Linked DNA regions of Homo sapiens. The protein of the gene in region 1 interacts with the protein of each later gene in a biochemical or structural test. Each region holds a gene or a part of one and is shown in the gene's direction. Other genes may lie near its edges.

Region 1 (8,171 bases):
CTGTGGAGGAAGTTAGAGGAGGCTTAGCTGTGGGGGAGGCCGGATGGAGGAAACTGAACCTGATCAAGTTTAGCATTCTGGGGCCGGGCTTGGTGGCGCATGCTTGTAATCTCAGCACTTTGGGAGGCTGGGGTGGGCAGATTACTTAAGCTCAGCAGTTTGAGACCAGCCTGGCCAACATGGTGAAACCTGTCTCTACAAAAAAATGCAATGATTAGCGGGTCGTGGTGGTGCGTGCCTGTTAAGTCCCAGCTACTCCGGAGGCTGAAGCTGGAAGATTGCTTGAGCCTGGGAGGTGGAGGTTGCAGTGAGCTGAGATAGTGCCACTGCACTCCAGCCTGGGCGACAGACCCAGACCCAGACCCAGACCCTGTCTGAAAAAAAAAATAGTAATAACAACATTCTGGGCTTTCCTTTGGTATACTTGATAGTGAAAGAAACTCTTTATTATTAAAAGTAACTGTGATTTTTATGTAATGGTGATTAAGGGTGGATTCAGAGTTTTAATTCAGAATTTAAAGTTGGTCTGGTAGACTGAGCTGGTGAAGGCCAAAAAGAAAGAAGCCTTTTCACTTGCTTGAATTTAAATACCTTCTTTTACATTTACATGGGAGTATTGTTCTCTGAGTATCTGATACCTGACACTTTAGCCCTCATGCCTGGGGCATCTTGGGAGGGATGAGCTGGGCCCTCCAGCATTTTGGTGGGAGGAGGATGGCGGTAGACCTTTGAGTTGCTCTGTCCTGGGAGGGTTTGAGCACCCGGAGGCATGCAGTGAGGTCAGTTCATTCTCTCTGTGGCCTAGGTGGACAGGTAGCATGGCCTGTTCTGCACAGAAGGGAACCCAGTTCACCAGCTGCTGGTTGGGTGAGGACCCTGGTATGTTAGGTGCTCAGTTTTTGCTTGGGTGCACAGCCAAAGATTCTGTGCCTTGCCTCAGCTGTGCAGCTAACAAATGGAGTCGATAGTCTTGTGACCTTGGTTTGGTGCCTTTCTGCCACATCATTCTCAGTCCTGAGTTTAGGGCAAAGCATTGCTTTGGTCAGGGGTGCTTCTGCTGAGGCTCTTGTCCTCTAAGCTTGTGCTGTGATTGCACCATTGGGCAGCACCTCCAGGGTGTCCAGCACTGTGCCGGTGGTTGGGGGAGACAGCACCCAGACCAAAGGGCAGCAGGTCTGGGGCCCCTGGCAGAGCCAGGAAGAAGTGCCATAGCCATTACCTGTGCTCTTTATACAAGGGTAACTGGAACATTGCACAGGAAGGGTAGACAAGGGGTAGACAAGCAGGCAGAGCCAGGTCGAGGCCATTGCAAATATTCCATGATAGCCAGATGCTTAGGGATCTGTATCAGCAGCCTAATTGAGATCTGGTGGAACGTTTGAGAGTTGGAACATGAGTATGCTCTCAGAAATGCCATTTGTTGTCTCTTCTACAGCAGGAATTTCCCCATCCTTCCTTTTTTGTTCCATCTGACTTGGAGCCCTAAGCAAACACTGCGTGCCCTCTGTGACATGTTGCTAGAGAATAGCAAGATAGGCCCTTATGAAATAATCACCAAATGCATAGTTCTTAGTGAGGGGAGCTGTGGAAGGAGCATTGGGAGATCTGAGGGAGTGCTCTGAACAGGGCTGGAGAGCATTCCAGACCCAGGGGAAAGCTGATGTTGAGGAGTCCTTGTGCTGCCATAGTCTTAGCTGTGCATTTTAATACATCACATCCAGAAAGAGGCCACTCACAGTGGAGAGAGATAGTGGGGTACCTTATCATTGCTTTTCCAGAGTATTTTCCCTGTCCCCGCAACTCCATCCTAAAAATTCAGCACATTTACTTTTAATGCTGTTTTAATAGTCTTATTGCATCTGTGTGACATTTAGCTTTATGTTCTATAAAAGCAGATGTTTGGGACTTCCCTTACTTTAGTCAGATCACAGTTGGTGTATTTTTAAGTAGCTCTTCCTGCCGGGCAGTGGAGTGTGGTGGGAGGAATCATAGTGTCAAATCATTCATTTGCTGCCTCTGTGACTCCCAACCCCCCAGGCAAGGATTTCCAGCCCCACTGTCTCCATCTGTGAATGAAAGGGCTGGTTCCCACCCAGAGGCAGATTGTGGGATTACACAGGATGGCTTATGAAAGGAGCAGGGACACACACTACATACTGTGTCTTCCCCTTCTTCCCAATCGCTGTCACCGTCCACTCTGTAAAGCCAGGACTGGGTGCAGTGGTTCATGCCTGTAATCCCAGCACTTCGGGAAGCCGAGGCGGGCGGGTCACGAGGTCAGAAGTTCGAGACCAGCCTGGCCAACATGGTGAAGCCCCATTGCTACTAACAATACAAAAATTAGCCAGGCATGGGTGGCACGTGCCTGTAGTCCCAGCTACTCAGGAGGCCGAGGCAGGAGAATCGCTTGAACCCAGGAGACAGAGGTTGCAGTGAGCTGAGATCGCACCACTGCACTCAGTGCAAGACTCGGTCTCAAAAACAAAGCCAGACAGTGCTCGAGGCCTGGGAGCAGAACCTGACCCTGTCACAATGAAAGGCCTAGTGGGAAGCAAACCACCTGGAGAGGGGAACTGTGTTCCCTGTGGCCAGACTTCTCAGGTCCTACGCCTGGGAAACTGCGCCCCAGAAGGCCAGTGAGCAGCTGACTCCAGCTCTAGGCATGCTGCCCCGAACCATCCGCTGTCACAGTTGCCTCAAAGACCTCCATTCATTCCACTCCCATCTGTGTGGCTGCTGCAAGCTTGACACTTTTTTCTGACACACTTTCTCTGCTTTGCTCATTATCTGGGACTTGTTCCTTGTTATTCTTAACTGCAGAGGCACTTAAAGAGCCCTTTTCTGGGGCACACAGGCCCTTTGAGTCCAGGCAAGCCTGGAGCAGTTGTCTGGCCATTCCCAGCAGATGCTGCAGGATTGTGACTCTGCACAAGTGTCTTCTGTGCATTTCACTAGGCCATGAGGCAGCTCACCACTAAATGTAGCAGTGTGTGGTCAAAAGGGACGTGGGGCAGAGCTCAGTGGTAAAAGGCCACCTTTCTCGTGGCTGTGTTTGGTGTCCTAAGAGAATGAGCTCAAGAACAGTGGGCTACAGTCTTCTGACCCTTGGGGAAGATCGTGAGAAGGATGCTGCAGCTCTTCATGTGAGAGCGGAGGCTGTCCTCCTTTCACAGATAGGAGAACAAAAGTTTCATGTGCTATCCCACTGCTGGGGCTGGGACTGGGGTCGAGGTCAAGGTCAAGGTCTAGTGGGTCTAAGTCAAAAGTTAACTGCTTACTTACTTCCCTCTGTTTCTCTTCCTTCTAGTCGCCCATGTTTGATGGAAAAGTCCCACACTGGTACCACTTCTCCTGCTTCTGGAAGGTGGGCCACTCCATCCGGCACCCTGACGTTGAGGTGGATGGGTTCTCTGAGCTTCGGTGGGATGACCAGCAGAAAGTCAAGAAGACAGCGGAAGCTGGAGGAGTGACAGGTGTGTACATACTGGGGCAGCATGGGCATTCAGCCCCCACCCTGAAGCTCCCAGGAGGGCCTCGTCTCAGAGAGCAAAGCAAACCTCCCCCAGCTTGCCCTCTCCCACATGTGCAGATCAAGCGTATGGTGCCCATGTTATTTCAGCAACACCTCCTGGACTCAGCATCATCTGTTGCATGATATTTGGTATTTTGTTTTTCCAGGTGCTTGGAATGTAGCCTTTAAAGTTGTTTTGTTTTTAATATACTTTATTTTTGTTCATGGCAAAAGTAAGCAAAGAACAAAGAGTTTCCAGTACCCCCTCCCCCTCCCACCACACAGGCTCTTCCTTGTCAACACCTCCCACCAGAGTAGTACATTTGTTATAATTGAGGAACCTACACTGACACATCATTATTGCCCAGAGTCCAGAAACTCCTGATGCTCTACATTCTATGGGTTTGGACAAATGTATGATGACATGCATCTGCCATTATAGTATCATACAGAGTAGTTTCAGACCTGCACCCTTCTGCAGCCCCCTTAAGATTAAGGAAGAATAGCTCATCTCTGAGAGGGGAATGAGGTAGGAGGTGGGGCTCAGACACCAAACCAAACCGAGGACTAACTAAAGCAGGGACAGGGACGAAGCAGCTTTCCATAAAACACCCACCAGTGTGCCATATCAGTTTACCATTGCCATGGCAATACCCGGAAGTTACCACCCCTTTCTGTGACAACAATCTGATGACCTAAAAGTTACCACCCCGTTTCTTAACATGTCTGCATAGTCTGCCCCTTAATTTGCATATAATTAAAAGTGGGTGTAAATATGACTTCAGAACTGCCTTTGAGCTGCTGCTCTCAGCACAGTGCCTGTGGGGTAGCCCTGCTCTGCAGGAGCAGTCACAGAGCCATAACACTGCTGCCTCAATAAAGCTGCTTTCTTCTACCACGAGCTCGCTCTTAAATGCTTTCCAGAGCGAAGCCAAGGACCCGCCCAGGCCAATCCCCAATTTAGGGCTGGCCTGCCCTGCATCAGTTTCACTGCTCTAAAAATCCCCTGTTTATCCCTCCTAATTCCTGACAACCACTGCTCTTTTTACTGTCTCCACAGTTTTCTCCTTTTATGTCTTCTCCCATGTCTTAGTACAGGTCACGTCAGGTGACATAGCAGAGCAGAAAGCAAAGCTATTAAAAGCTTTATTAGGAGAGGTAATCCTAGGGCAGCAAGAGAGAGGGAGGAAGGGGAGGCAGGAGGGCAAGCACAGTGCCATACGCTGTCAAGCTGGCCATGGCTTCATGAGAAACAGCCAATGGCTTGGTCATGCAGGATGCCCTCACGCAAGTCCTTTGCCACTAAGCTTCAGAAAAGCCCCTCGGAGCAGGAGGAAGGGAGCAGCATTATCCATTGGTTCTTTCTGCCTCTTGTTTCTCATTGGTTTTAGCTCGCTGGAGGTGCTGTGGTTCTCTGCACTTCCAGACTGTGTTCCTGGCCTCTGCACAGTCACGCCCTGCAGCCAGAGCTGCCTCTAGATCTGGAAGTGGCGGGAGGACTCTCAGTCCCTGGTTTTGAAAGAGTTGGCCTGTTGGTGACAGTGCTGTGTTTGTTACTGTGGTGGTCACTACAGGGTGGGTATGCCAGGGTGTGGCCCTTACCCTGAGGCAGTGACAGTGCTAGGGAACAAGGCTGTGGCACCAGCAGCCACTGTCAGGTAGCCCACCCTGGGGATACAGATGAACTACATCCAGTACGTGTAATTTTATGGTTCCTTATTTCTTTTAACATCTAAATGTTTACTCTATTTGAGAGTTATCCCGGTGTGTGCTGATGTGTGGTGTGAGGCGTGACTCCAGTTTTATTTTTTTCCAGATGATGATCTAGTTTCCCTACTTTGTTTTTTTGTTGTTGTTTTTGTTTTTGTTTTGTTTTCGAGATGGAGTCTCACTCTGTTGCCCAGGCTGGAGTGCTGTGGCATGGTCTTGGCTCACTGCCACCTCCGCCTCCCGGGTTCAGGCGATTCTCCTGCCTCAGCCTCCCGAGTAGCGTGGTGCCTGCCACCATGCCCAGCTAATTTTTTGTACTTTGTTTATTGGCTTATTCATCTCCCCCATTGAGAGGTGTCTTGTATCATGCACAAAATCTCTGTATTTTGGGGTCCTTTTAAAAATTTCTGTTCCATTGTCTGTTTAACCTTTTTTTATATGTAAACTTTTTTCGTTGTTGTTGGAGACGGATTCTCGCTCTGTCACCCAAGCTGGGGTGCAGTGGTGTGATCTCGGCTCACCGTAAGCTCCGCCTCCCAGGTTCATGACATTCTTCTGTATGTAGACTTTTTTTCTTATAGCAGTTTTAGGTTCACAGCAAAATTGAGTAAAGTACAGAGTTTCCATATACCCGCTAGCCCTACCCACCCCACACATACACAGACTTTTGTCCACAATCAACATCGCCACCAGAGTGGTCCATGGTTATAGCTGATGAGCTACATTGACACATCGTTATCGGAGTGGTCCATGGTTATAACTGATGAGCCACATTGACACATCGTTATCCCTCGAGGTCTGTAGTTTACATGAGGGCTCACTCTTTGCATTGTACATTCTGTCAGTTTTAACAAACATACATTGACATGCATGTACCTTTATGGTAGCCTCCAGAGTCCTTTCACTGCCTGGGAAATCTCTGTGCTTTGCCTAGTCATTCCTCCCTCCCCTCTAACCTCCAGTAACCACTGATCTTTTTGCTTTCTCCATAGTTTTTCCTTTTCCAGAATATAATATAGTTGGAATCATACAGAAGGTAGCCTTTTCAGATTGGCTTCTCTCACTAGCAATGTGCTCTTAAGATTCCTCCATGTCGAGCCGGGCACGGTGGCTCACATCTGTAATCCCAGCACTTTGGGAGGCCGAGCCCAGCAGATTACGAGGTCAGGAGTTCGAGACCAGCCTGGCCAATATGGTGAAACCCTGTCTCTATTAAAAATACAAAAATTAGCCGGTGTGGTGGTGTGCACCTGTAGTCCCAGCTACTCGGGAGGCCGAGACAGGAGAATTGGTTGTACTGGGAGGCGGAGGTTGCAGTGAGCCGAGATCATGCCACTGCACTCCAGCCTGGCAACAGAGCGAAACTCCATCTCAAAAAAAAAAAAAAAAAAAGATTCCTCCATGTCTTGTCGTATTGATAGCTCATTTCTTTTTATTACTGAATAATATTCCATTGTCTGGATTACCACAGTTTGTTTATTCATTGACCTGCTGAAGGACATCTTGATTGCTTCCAAGTTTTGGTGATTATGAACAAAGCTGCTAGAAACACCCACCATGTGCAGGTTTTTATGGGGACATAAGTTTTCAACTCCTTTGGGTAATCAAGGAGTACAATTGCTGGATCATGTGGTAAGAGTATATTTAGTTTTGTAAGAAACTGCCAAGCTGTCTTTCAAAAAGCTGAATCATTTTCCATTCCCACCAGCAATAGATGAGAGTTCGTATCATTATACATCTTTGCCAGCATTTGGTGTTATCATTGTTTTGGATTTTGGCCATTCCAATAGATATATAGTATTTTATTATTGTTTTAATTTGCATTTCCCTAATACTGTAATTATCTTGAACATCTTCTCATACGTTTATTTACCATCTGTATATCTTTGGTGAAATGTCTTTTGCCTGCCCCTACCCCCACTTTTTTTTTTTTTTTTTAAGACTGTCTTGCTCCGTCGCCCAGGCTAGAGTGCAGTGGTGTGATCACAGTTCGCTGCAGCCTTGACCTCTGTCTCCCACCTCAGCCTCTTGAGTAGCTGGGACTACAGGTGCGCACCACCATGCCTGGCTAATTTTTTTAAATTTTTTGTAGAGACAGGGCCCCACCTTGTTGCCCAGACTGGTCTCAAACTCCTGGTTTTGCTCTTTTTAAAATCACATTGTTTGTTTTCTTACTGTTGAGTCCTAAGAGTTCTTGGTATATTTTGGATAACAGCCCTTTGTCATATGTCTTTTGAAAATATTTTTTCTCAGTGTGTGGCTGGTCTTCCGCAGAGCAGAAGTTCTTAATTTTGTGAAGTCTAGTTAATCAGTTACTTCTTTAGTGGATTGGGCTTTTGGTGTTTGTAAAAAGTCATCACCAGACCCAAGGTCATATAGATTTTCTTCTAGAAGTTTAACAGTTTTGTGTCTTACATTTAGGTCTGTTATCCATTTTGGTTACTTTTTGTGAAGGGTGTAAGGTCTGTGTCTAGATTCCTTTATTTTTTTTCTTTTTTTTTTTTCGCATGTGGATGTCCAGTTGTTACAGCTCCGTTTGTTGAAAAGACTATCTTTTCTCCATTTTTGCCTTTACTTTTTTGTCAAAGATCAGTGGACTGTGCTTGTGTGGCTCTGTTTCTGGGCTCCCTGTTCTGTCCCACTGATCTACGTATCCTTTTGCCAGTACCACACTGTGTTGACTGCTGTGGCTTCATAGTAAGTCTTTAGGTTGGGTAGTGTCAGTCCTCCAACCTTGTTACTGTCATGGCAGAAGGCAGAGGAGAAGCCGGCAGTTGACATGGCCGGAGCAGGAGGAAGAGAGTGAAAGGGGAGGTGCTACACATTTTTCAACAACCAGATCTCAGGAGAACTCACAAGTATCATGACACAGCACCAAGGGAGAAATCTGTCCCGGTGATCCAGTGACCTCCCACCAGGCCCCACCTCCAACATTCGGGATTATAATTTG
Region 2 (6,859 bases), on another chromosome or scaffold:
AGGATGAGCCCTAAACCTCATCCTAAAGGATGAGGGCCAGCCAGGGTCTGTTAGGCGGTGCATTTCAGTTGGAGAATTCCCTACCCATCTGACAAAGTCCCATCTGACTCCAGTTGGGCAGAGGAGGGGTAAGGGGAAAGAGGAGGGTGGCCTTTGGCTTTGGGCTCACTTTCCTCCCCCACCTCACCCACTAGCTTCAACCATCTCCTCCCTCCCTCAATTATACCAATCTGAATTCTCCAGGGATTTACCCTGGGTGAGAACAGAGAAGAGAGCTGGTGGTGGGCACCACCCCTGGCTGTGTGATTGGCTCTTTTTGGTCCTGAGTCTTGCACCTTGCCAGATAGGCAATATTGTCAGTGAGGTGGGCAGGGGATCAATGTCCATAGCTGCCAGATCGCAAGGTCTCATTCTTTCCATTTTCCCACTGAACTGCGTAGGCTGGATTTTCTCTTAAAGAGAAAGGGCAGCAGTTGACTACAGAAGGAGGGGATGCTGGCAATACGTCAGATCTCACCTCCCCACACCTTTGTCCCAGGGTGGCCTCACCCATGTAGCTAGGTCTGGGCTGGCTGTACCTCCTGGGACCCCCCCCACCACGCTGCACTGGGGCGGTGTTAAGGCAGGACAACAAAGAGCCCTTCTGAACAGGAGATAGATAAGAAGCTGATTAGGGCCAACGGCCCTTCCCCGCCCTTGGCAGCATCTGGGGGTGGGCAGACCCCTCCATCCTGGGCAGAGTAGGAGGCCTGGGGGCCCATGGGAGCACAGTTTTCTGCAGTGTGCCTTGAAGGTGTGGGTGATGAGGGGGTAGAAAGTGGCTGAAGCGAGATGTTTGTCTAAAAGCACTTTTCTGTCTCCCAGCATCCCAGCCATCACTCTTCCACCTGCTCCTTAGAGAAGGGAAGATGAGTGAGTCGAGCTCGAAGTCCAGCCAGCCCTTGGCCTCCAAGCAGGAAAAGGACGGCACTGAGAAGCGGGGCCGGGGCAGGCCGCGCAAGCAGCCTCCGGTGAGTCCCGGGACAGCGCTGGTAGGGAGTCAGGTGGGTGTCCAAACCTTTGCTTCACTTGGTTTACCCTTTGGGGCTAGGGAGGTGCCTGGAGTTTCATTCAGCAGGCGAGACCATGCATGGAGGGTGCAGAATGATTCTGCGCAGTAAGCGTGTGGGTGTGTCCTCCCACCTGTGTGTACTCCTGCCCCACTTGCAACCCTGGTCAGATCTCTATAGAGACCCCAGGAGAGAACCGGGGGCCGAGGAATTCAAGATAAATTCTGAAGCCAATGGCAAACAGTCCAAACCTAAAGCACCCCAGAGGTCACATGGCCAGTGCTTAAAACACTCGCCTTTTTCTTAATTTCCAATCCACTGTGGACCAGTAATTTTAAAATGCAGTAAAGACGAATGAACAAAAATGAACATAGAAGCCCAGGGTTTTTAATCATTAGATTCAGTGCACGTAAAATGATTTTTGTCAATTTGCTGTAAAGTTGCTGAATACTTATGGTCGATTCTTGTACTTCCTCATCCCAGGTGAGAAACGGGTGCCTGCGTGGGCCAGCACCTGTTTGTGCACAGGCCAGTTATGAGTAGTTCTGGAATGGGCATTGCCCCTGGCTCTTTAGATGGAAATTGAAGCCCAAGAAGTCAAAAATGTTGGGGAGTTGGTGGCAGTGACCCTCAGAACCCTGGTGCTGCTCTCCCCACAAAGTCCTCATAGAAGGATGAGGCTGCCAGCCTGGCGCTGTGGGGCACCCTAGGGAGCATGGCCATTTGGGCATGGGGGGGACCCCATATTGGCCTCTTACAGAGGCAGCTGTCACCCAAGTGAAGGGTGGCTGTTGGTGAAGCCCAGTTACTTCCCTTCCCTGGGAGAGAGGTAAGAGGAGTTGAGTTCGACCTCTGCCCCTTAAACATGATACAGGTTGTTCACCTGCAGGTTTTCCCTGTCCGTACGGTGGAGAGTGGTCTGTGCTGACCTGGGCCCAGGGAGACACGAGCTGTGAGGAGTCTGCTGTGTTGGAATTCAGAGCCTGGGGTGGGGTCATTTGTCCTCTTAGCCTAGCTCCCTCAGCCTCCCCTCCTACCCCACCTGTTAGCCATGGTCAGTGGGAGGTGTCAGGAGGGGTGCAGGGTTACTGGACCCTGGTTATAGACAGACCATGGGCGGCCCCCTAGGAAACAGTAGCTGGCGCGCCTTCACCACACACCTTATATGCATTATGCAGCAGCTTTTTATTCTATCTACGGCTTATTAAAATTTCAGTGGGAATGATGGCAGGGATCTCTGGAGTCCGGCTATAATTCCCCTTCTCTGGGGGCAGCCTGGATGGGCTCCAGGTTTGCAAGTGCAGGCAGGGAGTGTGTGTCCAGCATAGGTCATCTGAGAGGGTGGGCAGTGATCATGGCCCAGTGCTAGATAACCATACATTACCCATTTAATCTCCATGACACCCTGCAAGGGAAGTCTTCACCATTTATAGATGAGGAAACTGAGGCTCCAGCATTAAGTGTCCCACCCAAGATAAGTGTCAGAACTGAGACTTGGGCAGAGCCACCTAACTGTCTTTCTGTCCCCAGAATGCCTTTCCTAGGGGTCTTCTGGGCTCTTGTCATTTTGCATCTTAGAAACCTGCAGGGAAGCAAGGGGAGAGGTGGGAGGCACTTTGCAAAGATGCTCAAACTGGAGCTTTGGATCCTGAAGGGATTCCTAGGTCAGGGATGGTTTGTGGTTCTTGGTTCTTGCTGACTTAACCTTGTTGAGGAGGCAGAGGGCTGTGTCTTCTGAGGGGGTGGAAACAGGTGATGACTGTCCCTGACTACCCCCTCTGTCTTTACAGAAGGAGCCCAGCGAAGTGCCAACACCTAAGAGACCTCGGGGCCGACCAAAGGGAAGCAAAAACAAGGGTGCTGCCAAGACCCGGGTGAGACTTGAGATGGGACTACCCCTGGGTGGATGACTAGCAGAGGATCCTCTTGTTGGCACCATGGCCACGGCTGTGGGGAGGTCTGGGAAGGGGCTCAGTCATCTCAGTTGTGTACCCCCTTCCCTGGTACAGGGATGGCAGTGAGTCTTTGCTAACTGGGGAGAGTGGGGCGATGACTAAGGTCTTACTTCTGGGGGGTTGGTCCTGCCCAGGACACTGCGGAGATCAGGTCAGAAGTCCCACAGCTTTCCTGATCTAGAGAAGGGCAGAGTGGGGAGAATGGAGGGTCCCTGCCAGTCCCTGGGCTGAGAATGTTACCTTCTCTTGGGGTTCCCTGGAGCCTGAAGGGGTGGGGACAGGCAGCAAAGGCCAGATTCACAGTGACATTAGCCTTTCAGAAAAGTTGTTTTGTTTTTTATTTTATTTTTTCTAAGACACGACTCATATCCTCTGAGTCATGGGCGGAGGTGGGAGTAGGGGGCGTGTGTGTATGTCGAGGGGGCAAATGTGGCTGGCCAGTCATTGCCAGCTGGACTTGGGTGGGCCTGTTGGGTGAGAGTGTTGGGTCACCCTGAACAGGCAGGTAGGTCTGCCCCCCATCACTATTGGGCATCGGGTGAGCACTGATGAGCATTTTGGACTTAGGAGATATTTTCTCTAACCCTCTAGAAAACCACCACAACTCCAGGAAGGAAACCAAGGGGCAGACCCAAAAAACTGGTAGGTGAAGAAGCAGACTGCTGCTTGCCTCCTGGGCTCTTTTGAGTTGAGGGTGTTGAGTACACAGTACCTGATGCTATGCACCCCCTATGGAAAGGCTCTCCTTGACCTGCTGGGACATCAGATTTTACAGAAGTCCAGAGAGGGGAAGGTACCTGGCCTGGGCTGTGCCCATGAGAAGTGAGGGGTCCCAGGTATAAATCAGACCACATCCCCCTGCCCTGCCCTGCCCTAGTTGTGTGTGGGGGTCCCTCCCTCTCCTGCTCCTAGAATACTCAGAACTTCTAGGGGAGATCTTGGAAGTCATCTAGCCTGTGTCCCCCTCAATTAGAGATGAGGAAAGGAAGCCATAGGGGGAAGGTTTGTCCTTCCTATGAGCCTCTGCAGAAGAGAAACAGCGAAGGAGCTGGGCCCTGGGAGGGGTCGGTGCTGGAGTTCTGATGTGACCCACCACACTGCACTGGAGGGCACCATCCAATTCTGGGTCCCCAAACAGCTGGTGGAAAGGCTCGGTGGGCTGAGTCAAGAAGCTGCCTCTAGGGGGCCACTGCAGTTAGGGTCACCCCAGCCTTCCAGCTCCTGGCCCTCTCCTACCCCCAGCCTGCCCCCTCAAATCCCTGAAGCTGTCATTCCTTGAGCTGAGCCACTGCTGGGGTGGGGGGGTTAGGGGGTGCTGCTGGCCAGGCCCCAAGAGTGAGTAACAGGAAACAAGTTGTTTTGGAGTTTGTGCCTGGCACGGGGGCTGTAGCCCCGTGTGGTGTCCCGACATTCCCGCCCAGTGAGTGAGCCCCGGCGGCACACACTTCCCCTTCCTCCCCACCCCGGCCTAGGGTCAGCCCTCGGCCACCCCGGAGGGCCAGGGCACCACAGCACAGCATCTGCCCCTGTGGGCCAAGGACCTGGTTCCCCTGCACCCACCAGCGGGCTCTTGCACCTTCCAGCCACCCCTTCCCATTTCCTCCCCCAGCCACCTCTTCCCCCACCTCCTCTTCTCCCCTAGGGAGTCAGTCACATCCTGAAGCTCATTGCTGCCCTGAGCTCTGCCCTCCTGCCCTCCCTGGGCCTGGGGGCCAAGGGGGCTTGGCTCCTGGCTCTGGGTGAGAGCAGCATGTGTGTGGGGTTTTTTCCTCCTTTTAAATTCTTTTTATGAATGAAGCCGGGCCGTGGAGGTTGCTGAGTCACCCACACACTCAGCCCTGACTCATCCCTCTTCAGGAGAGCCAGGGAGTGCAGGGAGCGGGTGGGGCCAGCCTCTGGGGGTGGAAGAGGGGGACCGGGCCAGAGCTCACACCAACAACTGCCCACCTCACAGGAGAAGGAGGAAGAGGAGGGCATCTCGCAGGAGTCCTCGGAGGAGGAGCAGTGACCCATGCGTGCCGCCTGCTCCTCACTGGAGGAGCAGCTTCCTTCTGGGACTGGACAGCTTTGCTCCGCTCCCACCGCCCCCACCCCTTCCCCAGGCCCACCATCACCACCGCCTCTGGCCGCCACCCCCATCTTCCACCTGTGCCCTCACCACCACACTACACAGCACACCAGCCGCTGCAGGGCTCCCATGGGCTGAGTGGGGAGCAGTTTTCCCCTGGCCTCAGTTCCCAGCTCCCCCCGCCCACCCACGCATACACACATGCCCTCCTGGACAAGGCTAACATCCCACTTAGCCGCACCCTGCACCTGCTGCGTCCCCACTCCCTTGGTGGTGGGGACATTGCTCTCTGGGCTTTTGGTTTGGGGGCGCCCTCTCTGCTCCTTCACTGTTCCCTCTGGCTTCCCATAGTGGGGCCTGGGAGGGTTCCCCTGGCCTTAAAAGGGGCCCAAGCCCCATCTCATCCTGGCACGCCCTACTCCACTGCCCTGGCAGCAGCAGGTGTGGCCAATGGAGGGGGGTGCTGGCCCCCAGGATTCCCCCAGCCAAACTGTCTTTGTCACCACGTGGGGCTCACTTTTCATCCTTCCCCAACTTCCCTAGTCCCCGTACTAGGTTGGACAGCCCCCTTCGGTTACAGGAAGGCAGGAGGGGTGAGTCCCCTACTCCCTCTTCACTGTGGCCACAGCCCCCTTGCCCTCCGCCTGGGATCTGAGTACATATTGTGGTGATGGAGATGCAGTCACTTATTGTCCAGGTGAGGCCCAAGAGCCCTGTGGCCGCCACCTGAGGTGGGCTGGGGCTGCTCCCCTAACCCTACTTTGCTTCCGCCACTCAGCCATTTCCCCCTCCTCAGATGGGGCACCAATAACAAGGAGCTCACCCTGCCCGCTCCCAACCCCCCTCCTGCTCCTCCCTGCCCCCCAAGGTTCTGGTTCCATTTTTCCTCTGTTCACAAACTACCTCTGGACAGTTGTGTTGTTTTTTGTTCAATGTTCCATTCTTCGACATCCGTCATTGCTGCTGCTACCAGCGCCAAATGTTCATCCTCATTGCCTCCTGTTCTGCCCACGATCCCCTCCCCCAAGATACTCTTTGTGGGGAAGAGGGGCTGGGGCATGGCAGGCTGGGTGACCGACTACCCCAGTCCCAGGGAAGGTGGGGCCCTGCCCCTAGGATGCTGCAGCAGAGTGAGCAAGGGGGCCCAAATCGACCATAAAGGGTGTAGGGGCCACCTCCTCCCCCTGTTCTGTTGGGGAGGGGTAGCCATGATTTGTCCCAGCCTGGGGCTCCCTCTCTGGTTTCCTATTTGCAGTTACTTGAATAAAAAAAATATCCTTTTCTGGACTGGAGTCTCCTGTGGTGTGTGCCCCTAAAGCCTGGGGCAGGTAGGATGGGTGACACTTGTGTTCTGGCCCCCATCCTTCAGGCTGCAGGAAGGGAGGGGAAATAGCACTGGAATCACCTCCGGGGAAGGTCATTTTAAGCCTCTTGATGAAATCAAAACCCCTAGCCACAAAACATTTTATTTACAAAATATATACTGAATACTATACATCTGGCCCCATCACCATGGAAACAACTCCAAAGCCTGCCTGGGGATTTGTGCCCAAGCCCAGCCCAGGAGGGCTAGAGAAAGCAAAGGTGTCTACCAGCCGCCCCCATCCCAGAAGGAAAGCCTCTTCCCATGAGTGCCTGTGGGTGGGCGGTGAGCTCAACACCCACAAAGGGCAGAAGGCCTGGGGGCAGTGAGGTGATGGTGAGGGCATGGGAAGCAGATGCTGCTGAGGGTGGGTGGAGGGAGAAATGGAGACCCAGCACCCAGCAGGGGGAGCCAGGTGACAGCA
Region 3 (5,068 bases), on another chromosome or scaffold:
TTTTGTTGTTGCTCACAGGCTTGTTCAATCTTATTTCAAAATTTGAGAAATACAGTTTCCATGGAACACCAACCAGATATCAGGTTGCTATGGAGTTGATAGTCAAAAGCTTTGTATCTTCCAGTTTTTCAGAATGGCTTCTAAAGGTTCTGATTCAGAGCTCTTAGGCGAAATTGAACAACCAAGTGTCAAAGTACAACATTCAGGAAGTTAAAAACATGACTGACATATATGTACTATATATAGTGAGCTTGTGTATGTGTCAATGAATGATTTAATTCATTAATGAAGGAGGAAGCAGAATCACAATTAGGTCAAAGGAAGATACGGGAGAATAAAATATGTATTTGGTCAGGGAAAGGATGTATACTGGAAGAGGAAGGGAAAATCAGATATAAAGTTGTTTAATGACTTATTAGGCAATACAATAATAACTTTTAGGGTCATTTTTTCTATATTAAGAATTCATTTCCATCTCTATGACAAAATCCTTATTAATTTATTAAACTTCTACAAGTGAATGTTTACTTTTAGATAGTCTGGACCCAATAAAATGTAAACATTAAGTCAGAGTTACTTTCACGTAGGACAGTGTTGTCCAATAAGGTACCACTAGCTACACGTGATCATTGACCATTTGGACTATAGCTAGACTGATTTAAAATGTTCTAAAAGTGTAAAATACACACCAGGTTCTGAAGATTTATCATTTAAAAAAGAATGTCAACTGTCTTTTTTTTTAGCTTATTTATTATATGTTGAAGTGATAATAGTTTAGATATATTAAGTTAAATAAAATATCTTAAAATTAATTTTACTTGTTTCTTTTCATTCTTTCAATGTGACCACTAGAAATCTGGAAAGTATTTATGTGATTCACATTCTATTTTACTGTCTAGTATTGCCTTACATCATCAGGTACCCCATAAGTAGGCTTTTTAGATAATTCTCTAATATAGCTTGGAAGGATATGGAGAAATATTTTTGCGTTGCTTTTAAGTTTTGCATAACTTTTTCAACACACTTTATAAAGGATCTAGAAAAGGGTTGGTTACATGTTTCTCTGTCTTCTGGCCTCCACCATGTTGCCAGGAGGTTGGGGACAAGATTCTGGGTGGCTGGATGTCCTAATGGCTTGAGGTCTGGACTTGAGATTTGCATATAAAGAGATGTGATTAGATTGAGTCGACTAGAAAAATCATATTAGAGAACTGAATCACAGCGATTAAATTTACATGTCGATTTATAAACCAGGACACCAATTTATAGTGAAAGAAGGTCCAGTTACCTGGTAATCAAGACGTTTCATAGCTATTTTCATGATGGATATACTTAGCTGAGTTTTAAATGAGAAGGGGGTTCATTGCACATAGAATAAGATCTAAGTGAAATGTTTATTTTATTTTTTTTTTTTTGACATGGAGTCTTGCTCTGTTGCCCAGGCTGGAGTGCAATGAGGCAATCTCGGCTTCTGGAGTGCAATGAGGCAATCTCGGCTTCTGGAGTGCAACGAGGCAATCTCGGCTCACTGCAACCTCCACCTCCCGGGTTCAAATGATTCTCCTGCCTCAGTTTCCTGAGTAGCTGGGATTAGAGTTGCCTGCCACCACGCCAGGCTAATTTTTGTATTTTTTTTAGTAGAGATGGGGTTTCACCATGCTGGCCAGGCTGGTCTCGAACTCCTGACCTCAGGCGATCTGCCCGCCTCAGCCTCCCAAAGTGCTAGGATTACAGGCGTGAGCCACCAAGCCTGGCCTAAGTGACATGTTCTTATATTGTTCCTTTCTTTCTTTTTTTTTCGACTGAGTCTCACCCTGTTGCACAGGCTGGAGTGCAGTGGCGTCATTTCGGCTCATTGCAACCTCTGCTTCCCGGGTTCAAGCGATTCCCTTGCCTCAGCCTCCTGAGTGCCACCACCCCCAGCTAATTTTTGTACTTTTAGTAGAGATGGTGTTTCACCATGTCGGCTAGGCTGATCTCAAACTCCTGGCCTCAGGTGATCCGCCCCCGAGTCTCCCAAAGTGCTAGGATTACAGGCGTGGGCCACGGGGCCCAGCCTTATATTATTTCTTTTACTACAATATATTAGTATGATGCAGGTGCTTCAATTGTTTATACACTTTCCATAATTTTGTATAATTCTTATACCCTGTCACTCTGAGGAATAGCCGGTCTAAGTGTTTTTCCACCACTGCTAATTCATCCATCACTAATCTCATTAGACTGTTAATTCCCAGAGGACATAAGCACACAAGCAGACAATGTTTACAAATGTTGGACAAATGTTATTTAATAAAACAATGGGGTCACCCTTAGTCTAAAAGATGTTTCACTTTTCATTTGTCATTGAACTCTTATTTGTAGGTTCCCTTTTGACTTTCCCACAATCTAAGGCTGTTCTCTTTAACACATATTTTCATGAAAACATATATTTGAGCAGAAATTGTTGGGGAGTTGTAATATTACCTTTGTCCCTAAATATGAATCTATAATTATATCAAATATATGGGCAGACAATTTACTTTGCCTTTAATCTCAAGAAAAAAATAGCAATTACTTGGGGTCGGAGAGTAAAATAAGAAGTAGTGAACCTTAAAGTAGCAAACTTTAGAACAGAATAGTTTCAGAGGGGATGAGAAGAGGTGATTTTTCAGCTCATCAACAACAGATCTTATAATAAATTACATGTTCTGGTACTTTTCTTGTCTTTCTGTGTTAAATTTTGCTATTTAAAAAAATAAATTTCAAATACATTGTTCATCTTAAAAGTCAAGAGTGTGTTTTATTAAAGTCAGTTGCTTTATTTGCAACTCAAAAGATATATTTGAGTTCCCAACTGGAGATTGTCCTATATGGTAACTTGCGTAAGGTATGGTTACTGAAAGTAACCTACAATTTTCATGGGCTGAAATTCATTTCTATATTGCAGCGTACAAAAATAAATAAATAAAAAATGCTTGTTTTCTTTGAAAACATATTATCTCAGTGCCTCTAACTGCCAAATCTATTGGCTTTTTTGCAGGCTTAAGGGCTCTCCCTTGTTCCTTTATGATCTCTATCTTGAGGGCCAGACCTCCTGCCTTACACAACTCAGAGGGGGACCTCAGAGCTCTTTAAAAAGAGCCCAATTTCTCGCCTGTAGAGAAGTGAAAAGGATGCCCCACCCCCATCTATGAAAAGAGGGATTTGATAGTTTCAATGTCTTCAAATCAAAGATTTAAGTCTGTAGCCCCCCACCACCCCGGACCCTAGCAAGGCTCATGAACCCCCTCCCATCCCGCCCTAATTGCTTTGGACTGGCCGTGGAATCCTTGTCCCAGTCCACAGTTCCTGTGCGACTGCACGAAGAATTCACAGAGGACCTGTGTTACTTCCCTTGTGAAGAAACAGAATTATCATGAAAATTTAGGTGGAAACCATTTCGCTTTTTTCTTCAAAAATAAGGGAAGCATGTGCCCAACCACCCCTGGGAAAAAGAACCTTCAGGGGCAAAGGAGCGAACAGGTAATTTATAAGAAAAACAGAAAGTGGTCTCTGACTGCCCCAGACTTCCTTCGGAGTTGGGGGAATTGGGGACGCCTGGACGCGTTGTTTTTGTGTTTGTGGAAAAAATAAATGAAGAGCATGAAGCCCGAGGCTTCTGAGATCCTTTCCTGACCAAACCCAAGTGATTTGGTGCGGGGAATTTTAATATTTTTCCCCTTTTGTGAGGTGGAACAAACACAACTTGGGAGCAGCGCAGCGGCTCAGAGCCTGCCAGCCAGGCGGGCGACCAGAGCACCAATCAGAGCGCGCCTGCGCTCTATATATACAGCGGCCCTGCCCAGGCGCTGCTTCATCGGCGCTTTGCCACTTGTACCCGAGTTTTTGATTCTCAACATGTCCGAGACTGCTCCTGCCGCTCCCGCTGCCGCGCCTCCTGCGGAGAAGGCCCCTGTAAAGAAGAAGGCGGCCAAAAAGGCTGGGGGTACGCCTCGTAAGGCGTCTGGTCCCCCGGTGTCAGAGCTCATCACCAAGGCTGTGGCCGCCTCTAAAGAGCGTAGCGGAGTTTCTCTGGCTGCTCTGAAAAAAGCGTTGGCTGCCGCCGGCTATGATGTGGAGAAAAACAACAGCCGTATCAAACTTGGTCTCAAGAGCCTGGTGAGCAAGGGCACTCTGGTGCAAACGAAAGGCACCGGTGCTTCTGGCTCCTTTAAACTCAACAAGAAGGCAGCCTCCGGGGAAGCCAAGCCCAAGGTTAAAAAGGCGGGCGGAACCAAACCTAAGAAGCCAGTTGGGGCAGCCAAGAAGCCCAAGAAGGCGGCTGGCGGCGCAACTCCGAAGAAGAGCGCTAAGAAAACACCGAAGAAAGCGAAGAAGCCGGCCGCGGCCACTGTAACCAAGAAAGTGGCTAAGAGCCCAAAGAAGGCCAAGGTTGCGAAGCCCAAGAAAGCTGCCAAAAGTGCTGCTAAGGCTGTGAAGCCCAAGGCCGCTAAGCCCAAGGTTGTCAAGCCTAAGAAGGCGGCGCCCAAGAAGAAATAGGCGAACGCCTACTTCTAAAACCCAAAAGGCTCTTTTCAGAGCCACCACTGATCTCAATAAAAGAGCTGGATAATTTCTTTACTATCTGCCTTTTCTTGTTCTGCCCTGTTACTTAAGGTTAGTCGTATGGGAGTTACTGAGGTATCAGACGAATTGGGTGACGGGGTTGGAGAGTGGCCGTGGTGAGGTTACAGCATTTAAACCTTTATTGCGGCTTCTAGGTCCCTGACCGGAGGCTTTTCTCGCTGGCGGATGGTTTTGGGATGGCAGTCCCGCCCCAGGCCTGTGAACGGCAGAAAAGACCGCAAAACAAGAGCCAGTTTCTTAGTCTAAAGGGATGTCCGGATTGGACTAAAAAATTTTCAAAAGTCCCGCCCTGCTCCCGGGTTGGTCCGTTCTTCTAGTACATGACTTTCATTCTGTATTTAATTGGATGGTGGAAGACGTTGCTTATTCTGTGTTTTTTGCTTTACTGTGACTTAAAAGTTTTGCCTCTTTTCTCTTTATATTAATGTCTGGGATTTCGGACGCTTTCCATGTTGTTGGT

The links. The genes of interacting proteins can lie anywhere in the genome.
Region 2: the proteins of PARP1 (region 1) and HMGA1 form a complex in vitro, tested with the Homo sapiens proteins (2 studies listed by BioGRID, with this or other methods).
Region 3: the proteins of PARP1 (region 1) and H1-2 form a complex in vitro, tested with the Homo sapiens proteins (2 studies listed by BioGRID, with this or other methods).

Annotation. Positions count from the first base shown.
Region 1 is NC_000001.11:226,397,516-226,405,686, reverse strand, and holds part of PARP1 (poly [ADP-ribose] polymerase 1), read left to right. Parts: intron 1-3,307; coding exon 3,308-3,473; intron 3,474-8,171. UniProt on the Homo sapiens protein: Poly-ADP-ribosyltransferase that mediates poly-ADP-ribosylation of proteins and plays a key role in DNA repair.
Region 2 is NC_000006.12:34,239,873-34,246,731, forward strand, and holds the end of HMGA1 (high mobility group protein HMG-I/HMG-Y), read left to right. Parts: intron 1-800; exon of another isoform or gene 801-864; 5' UTR 865-908; coding exon 909-1,043; intron 1,044-2,839; coding exon 2,840-2,923; intron 2,924-3,595; coding exon 3,596-3,646; intron 3,647-4,958; coding exon 4,959-5,012; 3' UTR 5,013-6,359; downstream 6,360-6,859. UniProt on the Homo sapiens protein: HMG-I/Y bind preferentially to the minor groove of A+T rich regions in double-stranded DNA. It is suggested that these proteins could function in nucleosome phasing and in the 3'-end processing of mRNA transcripts.
Region 3 is NC_000006.12:26,055,240-26,060,307, reverse strand, and holds H1-2 (histone H1.2), read left to right. Parts: upstream 1-3,837; 5' UTR 3,838-3,879; coding exon 3,880-4,521; 3' UTR 4,522-4,568; downstream 4,569-5,068. UniProt on the Homo sapiens protein: Histone H1 protein binds to linker DNA between nucleosomes forming the macromolecular structure known as the chromatin fiber. Histones H1 are necessary for the condensation of nucleosome chains into higher-order structured fibers.